2 separate regions of the Homo sapiens genome follow, and region 2 is linked to region 1. Evidence: fine-mapped expression QTL. Tissue or cell type: lung. Region 1 holds a variant in brackets; the other region holds the start of a gene. All regions are shown on one strand. Distances are from middle to middle.

What was found. PIP is the estimated chance that this variant, and not a neighbour inherited with it, causes the effect.
Region 2: ACOXL starts here. The variant in region 1 is the best candidate, but not a certain one, in a credible set for the expression of ACOXL in lung (TOPMed, PIP 0.77).

What each region holds. Positions count from the first base shown.
Region 1 is chr2:110,987,989-110,996,395 of GRCh38, forward strand. It overlaps ACOXL (acyl-CoA oxidase like), which reads left to right. Exons shown (of 18, transcript NM_001142807.4): 14 at 7,905-8,016. Among named protein-coding and RNA genes, the nearest start is that of ACOXL-AS1, 120 kb to the right of the region's middle. The variant A/C (reference allele first, on the strand shown) is at 4,488.
Region 2 is chr2:110,727,902-110,736,308 of GRCh38, forward strand. It overlaps ACOXL (acyl-CoA oxidase like), which reads left to right and starts at 4,672. Exons shown (of 18, transcript NM_001142807.4): 1 at 4,672-4,873. LOC124906064 (a long non-coding RNA gene) reads right to left here and starts at 4,524. Exons shown (of 3, transcript XR_007087181.1): 1 at 4,453-4,524; 2 at 3,935-4,003; 3 at 3,460-3,734.

The sequences.
Region 1 (8,407 bases):
TAAATCACCATGGACACCCATATATCCATAGGACCTCCACTTCAGACGCAACTGAAGCAAACAGTTCATGGAGCAGTGGCTACCTTCCTATTTATTACTAGTGATGCTCTCTGATATTTTTAAATTTTATTTTTAAAGAATACTGATCTTAGCAGAATATTGATTTCAGCCAGACATGGTGGCTCATGCCTGTGATCCTAGCACTTTGGGAGGCCAGGACAGAAGGATTGCTCAAGCCCAGGAGTTCGAGACCAGCCTGGGCAATATGGTGAGACCTCTGTCTCTACAAAAATAATACAAAAATTAGCCAGGCGTGGTGGCACATGCCTGTGGTCCCAGCTGCTTGGGAGGCTGAGGCAGGAGGATCACTTGAGCTGGGAGGCAGAGGTTGCAGTGAGCTGAGATCATGCCACTGCACTCTAGCCTGGGCAACAGAGTGAGACCTTGCCTAAAAAAAAAAATACTGACCCCAACCCTTAAACTGATTTTATGACCTTTTAGTTATTTGCAATCTGTTGTTTGAAAAACACTCCCCTACGGTATATATTACCTAGGAATGGAATTGCTGTGCTATGGAGTAATGTTCAACTTTACTAGATAGTGACAAATTATTTTTCAAGGTGGTTGTATAAATTTACACCCCCATTAGCAGCATGTATCTTGTGGGGCCTTATTCTGTTCTCACCAACCCTTGGTACTATCAGACTTCTTAATTTTTGTCAATACAATATAAGAAATGATCTCTCACCCTGACTTTAAACTGAATTTTCTCAATTACTATTAAGGATGAGCATGATTTCACATGTCTGTTTGCCATTTGTATTTCTTCCTGTGTAAAATGCCTGTTCATGTTTTTTGCCTATTTTTATTGTGTGTGTGTGTGTGTGTGTGTGTGTGTGTGTGTGTCTTGTTCTTATTGATTTTTAAGGGCTCTTTATCCTTTGTTGTTACAAATGCTATAATTATCTTTTCTATGTTTGTGGCTTGTCTTATATTTTCTTTATCGTGTGTTTTGATTGAGATAAATTCATTAATTATAGTCGAACTTATCAATCTTTTCTTTTATATCCAACACTTTTTCTGCATCATCTATTCTGAGGTCATGAAATCTATATCTTTAAAACTTTGAAAGTCTCACCTTTTACATTTAATTATTGAATCCATACACATTTTTGTGTATGGTTTGAGGAAGGGATCTAATTTTATTTTTCTCCTTTGTGGACAGTCAGTTGTTCCGGCACCGTTTACTGAATTGGACATTCTTTTCTAGTAACCTGCAAGGTCTCTTTGACATTTATTAAATCTCCGTCTATTTGAGAGTTTGTCTTGGGGCTATTTTGTTCCTAGTCTCTTTGTGTATTTTTGATCCAACAATACACTGTTATAATTACTCTGGCTTTATAATAAAATATTACTATAGTATTATTATATCAGAAATGTAATTCAGAATTGGGTTGGCTGTTCAGAATCTTTGGCCATTTCATGTAAGTTTTGTAATAAGTTTGTCAAGTTTCTTAGAAGTAAAACAAAGGATGAATATTGTAGGATTGTACTTACATGACATACCTAGAGTAGTCAAATTCGTAGAGATAGAAAGTAGAATATTGGTTCCCAGGGGCTAAGAAGAGGAGAGAATGGGTAGTTATTGTTTCATAGGTAGAGTTTCAGTTTGGGAAGATGAAAACGTTGTGGAGATGAATAGTGGTAATGGTTGTACAACAGGGTGAACGTACTTAATACCACTGAACTGTACACTTACAAATAGTCAAAATGGGCTGGGCACAGTGGCTTATGCGTGTATCAGCACTTTGGGAGGCTGAGACGGGTGGATCACCTGAGGTCAGGAGTTTGAGACCAGCCTGGGCAACATGGTGAAACCCCGTCTCTACTAAAAACATAAAATTAGCCAGGCATGGTGGCACATGCTTGTAATCCTAGCTACTTGGGAGGCTGAGGTAGGAGAATTGCTTGAACCCAGGAAGCGGAGGTTGCAGTGAGCCAAGATTGCGCCATTGCACTCCAGGCTGGGCAACAAGAGTGAAACTTCGTCTCAAAAAAATAAATAAATAAAATTAAAATGGTAAATGTTTTGTTATTTACCATTTGTTATTTGTTATCACAGGCCTGCAAACCTGCTGAAAGTTTCTTTGAAAATATATTAAATCTATATACTTGCAGAAAATTGACATATTTATAAAGCAGGTCTTCCTCTCAAAGATTTTCATCTTCAAAGTGTCCTTCAGGGTTGTATAATTTTTTCCATACATACTATATCCTTTCATAGATTTATTACTGGTTACTTTATAATTTTGTTGTTAAAAGAATATTTTTAAATTATGATTTTTGTAGTTAATGATTTATTATACATGCAATTGGCTTTTGTTTATAAATCTGACTGTAAAGAAATTTCTTTTAAATGTGTCTGTAGATTCTTTGGAGTTTTTTTCCATAGACACTAATTTGCAAATTATAAATTTTTATTTCTTCCTTTCCAACTGTTATTTATTTTATTCTTTTCATGTCTCACAGCAAGAGCTAGGACCACCAACACAATTTGAATAGAAGCCATCTTACAAGGTGTTCTTTTGTCTTATTGCTGATTTTATTTATTATGTTAGAGACAGGGTCTTGTGCTGTCTTTCAGGCTGGAGTGCTGAAGTTTTTGATAGACACACTTTACTTCCTAAAGAAGCTTATACATTTTAAATGTATTTTTGTCATTACCAGATTAATTTTATCAAATGATATTTTTCTGCATCTGTTGAAACGATCATATATTTCTTCTTCATTTTGTTAGTTTGGTGAATAATTTTTGCCGATCATCTAATGTTAAACTACCCTTGCATGCTTAAGAAACACTCAATTTTGTTATGCTGTATTATCATATTTATATTTTCTTGGATTTGGCTTGTTAGTATTTTTTAGGGGGAGGAGATTGTATATTTATGGTTTTCCATTCTTGTACATGCCTGATTTAGATTTATGTCAAAGTTTTACATCTCTCATAGAGTTATTTTGGGGGGAGTGGTTTCTTATTCTGTGAAAGAATTTGATAATTCATCAAATTTGAAAATAATCCGGGCTTGGCGAGTAAACTATTTAATTAGCTTAATTGTTTAAAGCCTAGGCTTTTCTTTTCATGTTAGTTTAAGTAAATTGTATTTTTCTAGGAATTTATTCATTTGGTTTTGATTTTATTGGTATAAGTTTTTATGTGTACTATTCTATCATTACCTTTTTAACTTCTGCTAGATCTGTAGTTGTGTCTCATTTGTCATTCCTAAAATGCCTTCTTATGCTTTCTCCTTTCTTTGTTGTTGTTGCTCAGTCTCATTCAGATGTTTGACTGGTTTATTGTTATTTTTCAAACAACTGATTTTTCCCTTTGATCCTTTGTGTCATACCTTTCTTTTCTATTTCATTGATTTATGCTCATGAATGTATTGTCTCCTATATTATACTTTTAGAGAGCTTGTTATGCTTTTTTCTTTTGTGTATTTTTTAATTATTATTTTTTTGAATGAGATTATTGGTCCCTCAAACCAAAAGTATTGAACTAGTTTCTAAGGAAACTATTCATTAGAAAATAGAATCTCACAATCCTGATTAAACACATGGAAAACACAGTAAATGATGGCCTGGGATTCTTTATAGCCATTGGGATGACGTGAAATTGAGAAATCTGTTATCTGTCTTTTTTTTTCCTTTTTTTATTGCTGCTCAGGACCCTGTTTATTCAAACTGTGGTCCATCTTAAAGCTTGAAAACACGAGCTCCTACATGTTAGGACTGTTTCACTGGAGTCTCTGTTAGTTTAAATGTCTCCATTTGTCTTCATACTAGAGCTAGTGGGTCTTCCTAATATTTCTAGCTGTTGAGTAGGACGTTTACAGTATGGTTAGCTTTTTCCTCCAATGTATTAGTTTGAAAATTGTCCAACATATTAAGGAGTTGAAAGAATAGTACGACTCCCCACCAGAATCAGTTCCATCCTTGCAGGAAACTTGTTCCCCAACTGGCCACAAATCATCTGCCCTTTCGTTTCTTTTTCAGATAGCAAAGCAGGGCTTGATTCCATCATTTTGGAAGCACGACACGCTCTCACCCATATGCAAATCTATATCCCTAGCACATTTTCCAGCACAGAGTTGAGATGTGCCAAAGGCAGTATTCCAAATGTAAATATTTGGAAAGTTCCAGTCCATTTATTTTTGTCTCAGTTATTAACCTCCAAAACAGTGTACATCTGTCTCCCACACATCTAGGTTTTACTGATTCAGTCCCTGTGTTTATCTACTTAAATCCCGAAACTTTACTTACTCTGACTTTATATGAAGGAAAGCCTTTGTCATCAAAGTGTTTTCAGCACTCACTGTGTACCGGGCACTTCTCTAAGCATTGGTGATCAGCAGTTACTAGGGGCTCTGTCTTCATGGAGTCTGCACTCCGAGAGCAGTAGGATAGTAGGCATAGTGACAGCCCTGAGA[A/C]AGGTACTCTTGAGCAGGTGGGGACCTGAGGAAAGATGGGCTGAGAACTTCCTGGTACCCTTAAATCCCTCCAGTGGGCACCCATTTGTCCGCACAGTAACTACCCCTCATTTCGGCCTGGAAGGAGTCAGTCATGGTACTGAAAAGCCTCCATGGGACGAGGTAAGGCAGATGGAGCATGGCAGGGAGAGGAGCCCTGAAAGGAAGTGGCTTTGAAAGGGGGTTGTACCTGGCTCTGCAGATAGCCCCATTCAGCTCTGGCTTGTCCCTGCAAGGGTTGTCTCTCTTCCTCCTGCATGGTAGCCTGCCACTGGGGCCCCTCCCACTCTCATCAGCCTGTGGACCTTTAGGAGGTGGTGGTAGATGTCCAGGAAAGTCAAGATTTTGCCTTGCACCCAACGTGTTTTTCTACATTATGCTGTAAAATTTACAAATATTCAGCAAAGTTGAAATAATTTTACAGGAAGCATTTATGTACAAACCATGGAGATTCTATCAACCTATTACTGTACCTGCTATATCACTATCATATCTATGGATCTGTGTATGGAACTCACCCATCCATTCACCTTCTCTTTTTGATCCATTTCAAAATAAACTGTAGACATCAGCACATTTCTAAATAATTTAGCATGAGCGTCATTAACTACAGTTACATATTTAGTTATAGTTCTTCTTATGTTGAATTTACGTACAATAAAATGCACAAATCTTAAGTGTACATTCACTGAGTTTTGACACATGCATAAACCTATGTAACCAAACTCATATTAAGATACAGATCATCACTCCAGAAAGTTCTTTCATGCCCCTTCTTGGACAATCTCACTACGCAGATACAGCCACTCTTCTGATATTTTCCCACCACAGATTAGTTTTTCTATACTAGAACTTCACATAAACAGAACCAGGCAGTATGTACTCTTTTGTAGCTGCCTCGTGAAATTGGCATAATACTTTTTGACATTCACCCATGTTGTTGTGTGTATTAGTTTGTTTCTTTTCATTATTGTAGTATTTTACTTTATGGATATAGTAGAATCATTCTCTTATGGATGAATAGACACCTGGGATGTTTGCTGTTTCTCACTTCTGTGAGTAGAACCGCTATGAGCATTCTTGTATAACCTTTTTTGTGAGCATATGTTTTTATTTCTCTTAGGCAATTAGTAGGAGTGAAACTGCTAGATCATAGGGTATGTGTTCATTTATTTTTATCAGAAACTGTGACAACATTTTGCAAAGAGATTTCACCATTTTACACTCCCATCAGCAAGCATGAGAGTTCTGGTTTCTCCAGATCCTGGGCAACACTTGATGTCAGTGTACTTAATTGTAGTCATTCTGGTGGATGTATAATGCTACCTCACTATGGTTTCCGTTTGCATTTCCCTGATGTCTAATGATACTTATTTTAATTTAATTTAAACTTTATTTAAAAATAGAGTCATTTGGATCTTCTTGTAAAATACACAGTTACAAGGAGGTTGCCTTTAGCAATGTTTCTATTTTTAAAGAAAGTCTGCACACTCTACTGCACTGGGCAGGCTCCTAGACCTACATGACATGTGACTCACATGACTCAGCGAGTGGGTGAGATCCCCTTCCTGCAGCACGTGCAGTTCACAATCTCAGGTGGACAAACATGTTCTACAGTCTGAATTCCAGGGAAGCTAATTTCCAATATCAGCCCCTGGAATGACTAAAACATACTTTTCAATAATATATGAAAGCTTTTTACATCTTTCATTAAATAGACTGAGGCAGAAACCCAAACTTCTTAAAGCCCAGATTCAGAATAAACATTGACATCTTTTAAATGTCCCGGTAATTGGCATGTAAATACTTTCCTCTTCCCTGTCTAAATGGAGGGTGATTATTAATTCAGCACTTGGCATCTCAAAAGCACTGCGTCAATTGCTTCTTAACGTTTCTCTCGTGCCTTCTGATTGAGCAACAACAGCCACTTGGGTTTTTTTTTAGTTAATATGAATTTAAGTTATTTGAGTCTTGTAATAACTTACTTCCTCAGGAAGTGGGGAAAGGGGAGGGCAAGAGGTGGCTGTGCTATGGGAAACCCTAAGTGTGAATTAACCCTTCCCCTGGTTGTCTAGGTTATCTAAAGGTTCATGGTGGGTCCATAAAATTGGCATGAAATAGAGTTTCATGATGAAAAGCTCACGAGCTTTTAATTGTGAACTTGGTTGTTTTGAGTCTGTGCTTACCTCTCTTAACTCCTCTGTGCCTCAGTTTCCTCATTTGCCAAATGGGAAAGATGGGAATTGCTGCCTGCTGAAGAAAGCTACCATCTCTGTAGCACATCCTCCCCTGTGCTTGCACACAGCCCTATCACTTCCCTCCAGGGTGCCTCTTGCTTTAAATGCTGATGTTCCCCAACAAAACCTGAGCTTGACTGAGTTCTGCCTGTGTGACCTTGAGCAAGTTACCAAATCTTGCTAAGCCTCAGTTTCCTAAACTCTACATTGGATAATTATAGTATTCTAGAATTATCGAGAAAATTGAATAATTCACAGCAGATAATGAACACAATTCCTGATATATAATATATTTAATAAGTATTATTAATTGATAAATATTTTGTAATAGATATATTTGATTATTAATATCCAATTATAATAATTATAATAAATGCCCAGCAGTGGTTATTATAAACTCACTTGATAGAGCTGTATAGTGGTTGAGTTATTATTATAAACTCACTTGACAGAATTGTATAATGGGGGCCAGGCACAGTGGCTCATGCCTGTAATCCCAGCACTTTGGGAGGCTGAGGTGGGCAGATCACTTGAGGTCAGCAGTTCAAGACCAGCCTGGCCAATATGGTGAAACCCTGTCTCTACTAAAAATACAAAAATTAGCCAGGCACAGTGGCATGTGCCTGTAATCCCCACTACTCAGGAAGCTGAGGCATGAGAATCACTTGAACCCAGGAGGTGGAGGTTGCAGTGAGCCGAGATCGTGCCACTGCACTCCAGCCTGGGAAACAGAGTGAGACTCTGTCTCAAAAAAAAAAAAAAAAAAAGAATTGTATAATGATTGAGTTATACATGAATTGTATAATGGTTGATTATACTTGACAGAAATTACATTGCTGTTAACTAAGAAAGACTATGTAAAATATTGAACACTACTTATAATACAATAGTAAGTGGAACAATTAGGAAACCAAATCATCTCTATACCACAAGGACAACCACCTAGAATAAACTAGAGCTAAGATTACCGAAAAGAATTATGAATACAGTCAGTGAGAGATGGGATGGGGAGATTATGTCTATTGACACTATTTTTCTACAGAAAAAAATAGTTTTAAAAAACAAACCTACTCTATTTCTTTCAAATGAAATTCTTGGTGAGGCCAAAATAATAATGATGGTCACCGTGATTTTCTTTCAGTTTCCTGGCATTTAACATGGACACAGTTGATGATCTCGCCTTTCTGTTGAAAGCAGTGAAATTTCGTGAAAGGGTTCTTCAGCGGGGTTTGGTGGCCAGAATTTATTATAAGGTAAAGATACACTGTGTTATATTTTTCCTTTTGACATGTGTTTAAGGGATATCCTTGCTGGTGAACTATCTGTTAAGTTTAGTAGAGGATGAGTCAGCCTAATGACAAGCTCCTGGAAGCGGCTAGAGTTCCTACGGGCCATTTTGCATGATACCGTTGCTTGCTCTAGAGGCCAGGATGCTTCTGTTTAACCCCCTTTATGTCATCTTGTAGAATTCCACCTGCAGGCATCATGTGGCTGCCATGGGAGTTGATGAGTGGTGTAATTTTCAGCCCTTATCAAAGTTGAAAAATCATTGTTTTATGTGTATAAAGAGTACATCGTTCTCTAAGACAGGGAGGGGAACTGCCTCAGGCATATGTAAAAATTAACATTGGGTTAGTCTAAGAT
Region 2 (8,407 bases), 260 kb before region 1:
AATAACATAATCATTTACTGTTACCATCAAGTATTATGCACTACTGTACATAATTGTATATGTTACACTTTTATACAACTGGTAGTGCAGAAGTTTTGTGTTTTTATTAACCTGGGCTCTATGGATCTGATCACAGTAGTTTGTTGACCAGATCGCCAGAAACAAGTGAGTAATATGTTGGGCTATGACTTTACGACACCAATGATGTCATGCGGTGATAGGAATTTTTCAGCTCCATTATAATCTTACAGGACCAATGTCATATATGCAGTCTGTTGTTGACCAAAACATTGTTATGTGGTGTGTGACTGTACTTGTAAGAGAAAGTCCTGCGTAACACAGATAGTCCAGGGAGCCACATTTTATTCTCTCTCTCTCTCTGTGTATATTTTTCAGACTCATTTGGAGTCAGTTGCCCCTTTACCCCTAACTACTTGAATTTGCTCCTAATGACAAGAACGTTCATTTAAATATCCACAGTACAATAATCAAAACCATAAAGTCAACATTGATACAGTATTATATTATCCATGTTGCTTAAATTTCACCAATTTTCCCAATAATGTAGTAATCCCCTGCGTAGCAAGATCAAGAACCATTGAGCCTAAGCCCATGGGCTGAGCCCTGGCTGCACAATAGTAGAGTCACCTGGGGTGGAGAGGAGCTTTTAAAAACTACAGATGCCTACCTCTAGAAATTGGATCGATTGGCCAAGTCGTGTGTATTTGTGTGTCTGTGTTCATGGTTACTCTGATACACACTTAGTGTGGAAACCATTGATCTAAGCCAGTATATGGTCACTTCCTTTTATTTCTTTCTCATTTGTCAGTTCCCGTTAGTTCTGGGTGGGTATACTGGGTTGAATAGTGTTCCCTAAACGTTCATATCAGAAAGTGACCTTCTTTGAAAATAGGGGTTTTGCAGATGTAATCAAGTTGAGATGAGTCATGTTGGATTAGGGAGGGCACTAAATTCTACAACCAATGTCCTTCAAGAGGAGGGAGATTTGAAGACATAGAGACCCACAGAAAGGAAGGCCATGTGATGATGGGGCAGAGTGTGAAATGATGCTGCTATAAGCCAAGCAATACCAAGGATTGCTGGGAGCCAGCAGAATCTAGAAAAAGGCAAGGAAGGATTCTTCCCTAGAGCCTTCAAAAGTAACAAGGCGCTGCTGAACATTTCAGATTTCTAGCCTCCAAATCTGTGAGATAATTAAATTTCTGCCGTTTACCTAACCAAGTTTCTGGTAATTTGTTACTGTAGGAAAATAATATAGTGGTCAAGGGACCTAGTTAAGCCAAGATGGCCCAAGGGCAATTTTACTGGGTCTTTTGTCAGCTATTCTTTCCTAGTAACAAAAGATTCACAGGAGTGTGGTAGTCTTTAGCGTTGGCTGGTGGGGGCGCCTGGGAGGATTACACTTCTCTGGCTCTTAGAGAGAGGTGTGGCTTGTAAACAGATTCTTGAGGTATCTTCCAGGACAGGCTAGATTACGCTTGACACTTCTGGGTGTACATTTACAAGTCCGTGGGTGATCCAAACCGTGCTCTCATCCTCTGACGCAGAGACCAGTGATGCTTCAGATGGGGGTTGCTCAGATGGACAAGGCCCGGGAGTAAGATGGCTTACTGGGAATCCACAAAACCTATTTGTTACAGGTTTCAAGTGAGACTCTTGATTCTATTCTTGCCACAAGGGGCAAGGGAGTAGAGTCTGAGTTTCCTGAATTTTAATGGGCTTTTGTTACTAAATATTTCTCAGTTTCATCTTTTACTAATAGAAGTCGTGAAGCAGTTGCCTCTCCCAACCCTAAAAGTCCCTGAACTTGTGGACTCTATTCCCTTCCATCCCTGCTTGCAAACTGGTTAATTCTTTTGTAAGCCCATCTCTTTCTTATAATGTCTTGCCAAACACAAGCAAAAGCAGCCAACATGCAATACTAACCTTGTGTTTTCAGCAACTTCTCTTGGAGTGATAAGTTCCAAGTTAGGTCTGTCTCCTGTCAGTGGCAACTTTGTCAAATATTTGCCTCTTCATAAAAGGGACCATTTTCAATTTTGGTCAACAACAATGCTTTGGTCGACAGCATCCTCCTTGCCCCTCCCAGCCTCTAAGCCAATGTACCTATTTTAGTTTTTTATTTAATCAGCAACATTCTTTTAGTATCTTCTATGATTGGCTACGTAACAAATGACCCTCAAAAAAAATCTTAGTGGTTGGCCGGGTGCGGTGGCTCATGCCTGTAAACCCAGCACTTCGGGAGGTCGAGGTGGGTGGATCACAATCACCTGAGGTCAGGAGTTTGAGACCAGCCTGGCCAACATGGTGAAACCGTGTCTCCACTAAAAATACAAAAAATTGCCAGGCTTGGTGGCGGGCACCTGTAATCCCAGCTACTCAGGAGGCTGAGACAGGAGAATCGCTTGAACCCAGGAGGCAGAGGTTGCAGTGAGCCAAGATCATGCCATTGCACTCCAGCCTGGGCAACAAGAGCAAAACTCCACGTCAAGAAACAACAACAACAACAACAAAAATCTTAGTGGCTTCTAAGAACAGAGGCCTTTCTTTTTTCTCACTCAAGCAAACACTCACTTGGAAGTTAACTTAGTAACCTATCTTTTCAGTTTATAGGTCTCCGGATCAAGAGGAGCCACATCCTGACTTGATGCAAGGACCACTCTGTATCCCCCAGGGGCCTCAGACTTGATGTTGTGGAGGTGTGGGGCTTTGGCTGCTTCCCTGGAAGGATGGAGAGTATATTTTGCCTGTGGAAGGGAGAGTGTGACCAGAAGGGCAGATTGAATAGTCACTAGCTCTGCTTACAGATGATTTTGGGTGTTGACCTCCTGGGCATGTCCAGGGTGGTACCTCCCTTCCCCCATCGAGACAGGAGTGAGCTGCTTTGTCCAGTGGATTGTGAGTAGAAGTTATGTGTGTCTCTTCCAGCTGGAAGCTTTAAAAGCCAGTGTGGCCACACAATCATGGCTGTTCTGTCAGCCAGGACCTGGACCGAGGGGACATGGAACAGAACCCCCAGGTAGCATGAGTGAGAAATAAACTCTTGTCTTTTTAGGCCCTAAGATTTGAGGAAGTGTATGTGAAGTCGTTTCGGGGTTGTTTGTTACCACTACACTATTTTGGCTGATATAGAAGGAAATACTCCTCTTCTGCTTTGCACAGGGTGGTGCTTGGAGCTGCAGCATCCATCTTACAACTGGTAGAAGACAAGTTAAAAAAAAAAAGGTAACGATTACATATAGAGAAAGGATGGCGGATGGTGGAGCAGAAAGATGCAAAGGACCTGGGTCCCCAGGGTAGAGCCATCAAATTCACCCCTGGGGCTTTCCTACCACCAAGCTTCCTGTGATGTGAGAAAACAAAGCCCCTTTTATCATGGATGACTGGGTATTATTACTCGCAGCTGCACAGGTGTGGTAGACAGAGGAATGACTCGCCAAAGGTGCTCATGTTTTAATCCCTAGTACCGGAGAGTGTGTTTCTGATATGGCAAAATGGACATTGCTGGTGTGATTAAAGTATGGATCTTGTGGTGGGAAGATTATTCCCATTGACCATGGATTATTCCCATGGGTCCCATGTAAACAAGTCCAAGGGAGGCAAGAAGGTCAAAGTCAGTAGAAGATGGAACGATGAAAGCAGAGCTTGAAGTGATGCATTTTGAAGACAGACGAAGGGGCCAGGAGCTAAGAAATGCAGGCAGCCTCTAGGAGCTAGTAAAGACAAGGAAATGCATTTTTCCCTGGAGCTGTGAGAAGGAACCCAGCTCTGCCAACACCTTGATTTTAACCCTGTAAGTCCTATTTTGGACTTCTGACTTCCAGAAATGTAAGAGAATAAATTGGTGCTATCTTAAGCCACTCACTTTGTGGGAATTTGTTACTGGAAACGAATACAGATGGCATCCACTAACCTCACGACAGCAGACCACACCATCATCTCCCCAGCAAAGTAGCCTCTGGAAGGGAACGGCTAACATTTCCTTGAGTATTTAAAAGGAGAATCAACAAGGTATATGAGAATTAGGGAGCAGAAAGGAAGGAACATTTTCCACTTAGGTTATAACTCATTTTCCTCCAGCCACAACAAAAAAAGGAGTGTCCTGGGAAATGAGTATCGTGTTCCGGTCGATCACCTCGTCATGAATGCAGCTTCCAGCTACCCTGGACTGCAGTGCTGTAGACCTGGGACGCCTTTAGATTACCGTGATATTAGAGTTCACAGTAATGCCCAGTGCGGGGAAGAGGTGAGATACAGCTGAGGAGGGGCCAGAGCTGGAGCCAGGCTATCTTGGGTCGTGGGGGTCAGGCAAAGTGGCTGGCCGGGAGATCTGCTGAGTGGGTCAGCCGGTCAGTCCTGAGCAGCCGGGCCTCTGGTGCCCAGGTCCACGTGACTGGCACCCTTTCTAGGGGTCTAGTACTTGTTTCTTACGGCTCACAAATCTTGAGGGACAGTTGATAACTGGAGGGTAGAGTTTTCGCTTCCTCGGAAGGGCAAGGGGAGGCCACCGTAGAAGCGCCCGCTCGCGCCGGACCTCCCGCCCGGGAAGCCAGGGCAGGGCGGGGCCGGGGAGGGAGGGGAGAGGAAGGTGAGGAGGGAGGAGACGGGCCGGGAGGGGTGGAGAGGGAGAGGGCGTGCGCCTGGGGCCTCACCTGCTGGGAGCTGGAGGAGGCGCGGAGCGAAGCCGGCCCTGCCAGCCACGCGGAGAAGCAGAGGCAGGTGAGCGCGATGCAGCCGGCGCCGGGTCTGGGGCTCGGGGACTCCTCCCTGCACCGCTACCTGGACGGCGACTTCTGGAGCCTCAAGAACGAGCTGCGCGGACTCCTCGGCGGCGCCCGCTCTTCCGGCAAAGGTACCGCGCTGCGGCCGTCGCCCCTGCCCGCGCCCCCGAAGCCGCCGAGCGTGTCCCCTCGGTCCCCGGAGCGTCGCTGCGGACAACGCCCTGGCGAGGGCGAGGTGGGGTGTGCGCCGCGCCTGAGAGGCGGGTCCCTGCCTCGCCGCAGGTGACGGGCTCCCCTCCCCAGGTGTGTGGGCGCAGCCGGCCGCCGCCGACCTCTTCGGCCCCCTGAGAGGTGCCCTCTCCTCCCGAGCTCCCTCCCCCACGAAGAGTCGGGTGCAGGGCTGGGCCCCGCGGTGACAGGCGCGGTGTCTACGAAGACCGTGTGGCTGGAAGATCGGCCTTGCTGGTTTGTTGAACCTGTTTCTTGAGTCCCCGCCCCGCGATGTCCCACCCTTGGTGGGGAGAAGGGGACAGAAAACCGCGATGGGATGGGCGCACAGGGATGGAGTGGCCCTGTCCAGGGCGTGTCTGGGCGTCGGGGTGGGACAGGCTTACAGGACCCCCTCGGAGTGCAGGTGTGCGGAATGGGCAGCTTCAGCGGGGCGGTTTGGTTATAAGAAGAACTCAGGTCCTCGATGTCATCCGATGCCAGGACAGCCCTGAGAAGCAGGCAGAGGGTTGAGTGCTTGAGCTGCACTGGAGATAGAGAGATGGTTCAGTCACCGGACAGTCAGGACCAGAACTCGGCATTCGTGTCTCCTGTGGGCTCTCTTTCTCATACCCATTTCAAGCAGTCTGAAAAGCCCAGTTGGAGGCATGCTTTGGAGTTCTAGCTTAAGAAAGGCCCTATTAAAAATGTCAGTATGTGCCCGTGGAGGATTAATTGGTTAGCCATGCCCACTTAGCCCTCGTTTAATTTATTTTGCGGAAATGAGAGGGAAGGAGATGGCTTGAGTGAACGTCAGGCTGTCCTTGGAGAATCTGGGGTTCCTGCACTGAGGTTACCTAGTGGGGAGTTGGGGGCGTTTGAAAGTTGAAAAGTGAGAAGTGTGGGATGGTGGGTATATCCATCAGTGTCTCGCCGACTTCTCTTTCCCTCTCTCTCATACATAGTTCTTTAAGTTATGGTTCTCAAAGTGTGGTACAGGGAGCCCTGGGGGGACCCAAGAGCATTTCAGGCGGTTCATGAGTACAAACTGTTTTTATAGTAATACAAAAAAAGTTATTAGCTTTTTCACTCTCATTCTCTCACTAATGTACAGTGGCAGTTTCCAGAGACCACATGATGTGTAGTATTCCAGCAGAAAAAATATAGAAGCAGACATGAGAATACAGCTGCTTTCTATTAAGACAGACAGTAAAGGGATTTGTAAAAATATAGAACGATGCTACTCTTCTTGCTAACTTTTTTTGTTTTGGAAAATAGTTATTTTCATAAAATACACTAATAGATTTATTAGTTATTTTCAAATGAATTAATAAACATTTGAAAACTTTTCTGTTTTAATTTCTAATACGGGAAATATCAGTGGATATAACCCACCCAAATAAAAGCTCTTTGGGGACCTCATAATTTTTTTTTTTTGAGACGGAGTCTGACTCTGTTGTCCAGGCTGGAGTGCTGTGGTGTGATCTCAGCTCACTGCAACCTCCACCTCCTGGGTTCAAGCGATTCTCCTGTCTCAGCCTCCGGAGTAGCTGAGATTACAGGCACCCACCACCACGCCTGGCTAATTTTTTGTATTTTTAGTAGAGATGGGGTTTCACCGTGTTGGCCAGGCTGGTCTTGAACTTCTGACCTCAAGCGATCCGCCTGCCTCGGTCTCCCAAAGTGCTGGGACCTCATAATTCTTAACAGTGCAAAGAGTTCCTAAAATCAATGTTTGTGAACGGCTGCTTTAAGTCATACTGAGTTCAGTCGCATCTGATTAGACACACATCCCCTCCTATATTCCTCAGTCTTTTCAGTTTGTTCCTGGGCTATCACCTCTTTGTCTTTCAGTTTAGATAACTGCAGTTTAAAAGACGGAACAAAATTGTAATAACCAAACTACTGATTTGAGGCAAGCAGAAGGGACTTCCTTGTGAATTCCATAGGGACAGAGGAAAGGCATGCCTGGATAAGGGGTCCAGTGTGGCAGTTTATTTCCTGTGTGACCATTGTCCTGGATTTTTTTTTCCCCCTTATTGACTTACATTTGTTCATCTACAGAATGCAGATAATATCAATGCTGCTGTGTTATGAAGCTTGAATGAAAAACTGTTGCGTGGGCATGGAGTAAACACTGGTTGTGGTGGGATACCAAAACACACTTGCACGCAAAGGGAAAAGCAAAAATCCCATTACCCTGACAAACACTTTTCCATTCTTTCCAGTTCTTGTTTATTTACTTTATAGTTCAGAGTTGTAGTAATGGCATGAACAACATTTCATATTTTTTCCCCAAATGGTTAAAGATTCTGATATCTATCTATTTGAAAGTTCATATTGTACTATCAGATTTTACCTTAGCCCATGTTAGAAGATGGCGATCTTGATTTCTGGATGTTTTAACATTCTCCTAATGTAAAATGTTATAGAACATTAGGAGATGAGAAATAAAACTTCCTCCTCTCTGAGGCAATGCCAGATCTCCTGTGGCTTGTCCCCACCTTACCCCAAACAGGTCTTTGCAGTTAAAGTAGGTGTAGGGGAGAGGGTTGTGGCAGCGTAGTGGTGAGTGCTGTGTGTACATAGTGAGAAGTTTGTACAGGGCCAGGCAATCCCAGGGCATAAGAGCTCAGGAAACAGTTTTCCTCCAAAAGAGGTTGTGCAACTTCCTACACACACTGGGTGGCCACTCTCCTCAGAGGAGGAGTTCATTCCCAGGGTGCTGGCCATCGGCTCCCAGGGGCAATGTAGGCACAGCCCAGGTTCCTCTTCTAAGGAGTGACTTTCTCTCTCCCAAGGATGAGCCTGCTGGGCTAAGTCCTCAGACTCCGGGAGCATCCTGGCTGCTGTGCCCGCCCCTGTCCTATTGTGCATCTGACCAGGTGTGCTGTTTGTTGTGACAGCAGGAGCATTCTGGGTGACTGGCGGCTCCTCATTGGGATTTGCAGGGAATGTTAAAAAGCAACATCTGAAATGAGATAAGCTTTTGAGATTTTTCTGAGTTTGTTTATTGGTGAAGGGAAGCTCTCTCAGGAGAGGCTGGCTGGCAGAGGTAGGTACAGCACACACCTCTCACCCGGAGAACTGAGAAAGCCCCCCCATAGGATTCTGTTCTCTCAGGGCCTTCTCACACCCTTCTTCTCCCACTTGTAGCTCCTGGCTGCTTCCTTCTCCCTTTCTTTCTCTTTGTCCCCTTCTCTTTCCTTCCCTAGAGCAATGCACATTTCTCTTCCTAACCTTTTCATGTGTTTAGCTTTTCCCCATGAGTATTTCATGAACACGTTCTCACTAGGAAGAGTCAAATAATTTGGACAACTTGAAAGTTTCCTAAAATGTTTCCTCCTACAGCCATTTTTTTTTATTGTGGCAAAATACACACTATATAAAATTGACCATTTAACTGCTTCTGAATGTACAACTCAGTGGCATTAAGTGCGTTCACATTGTTGTGCAAC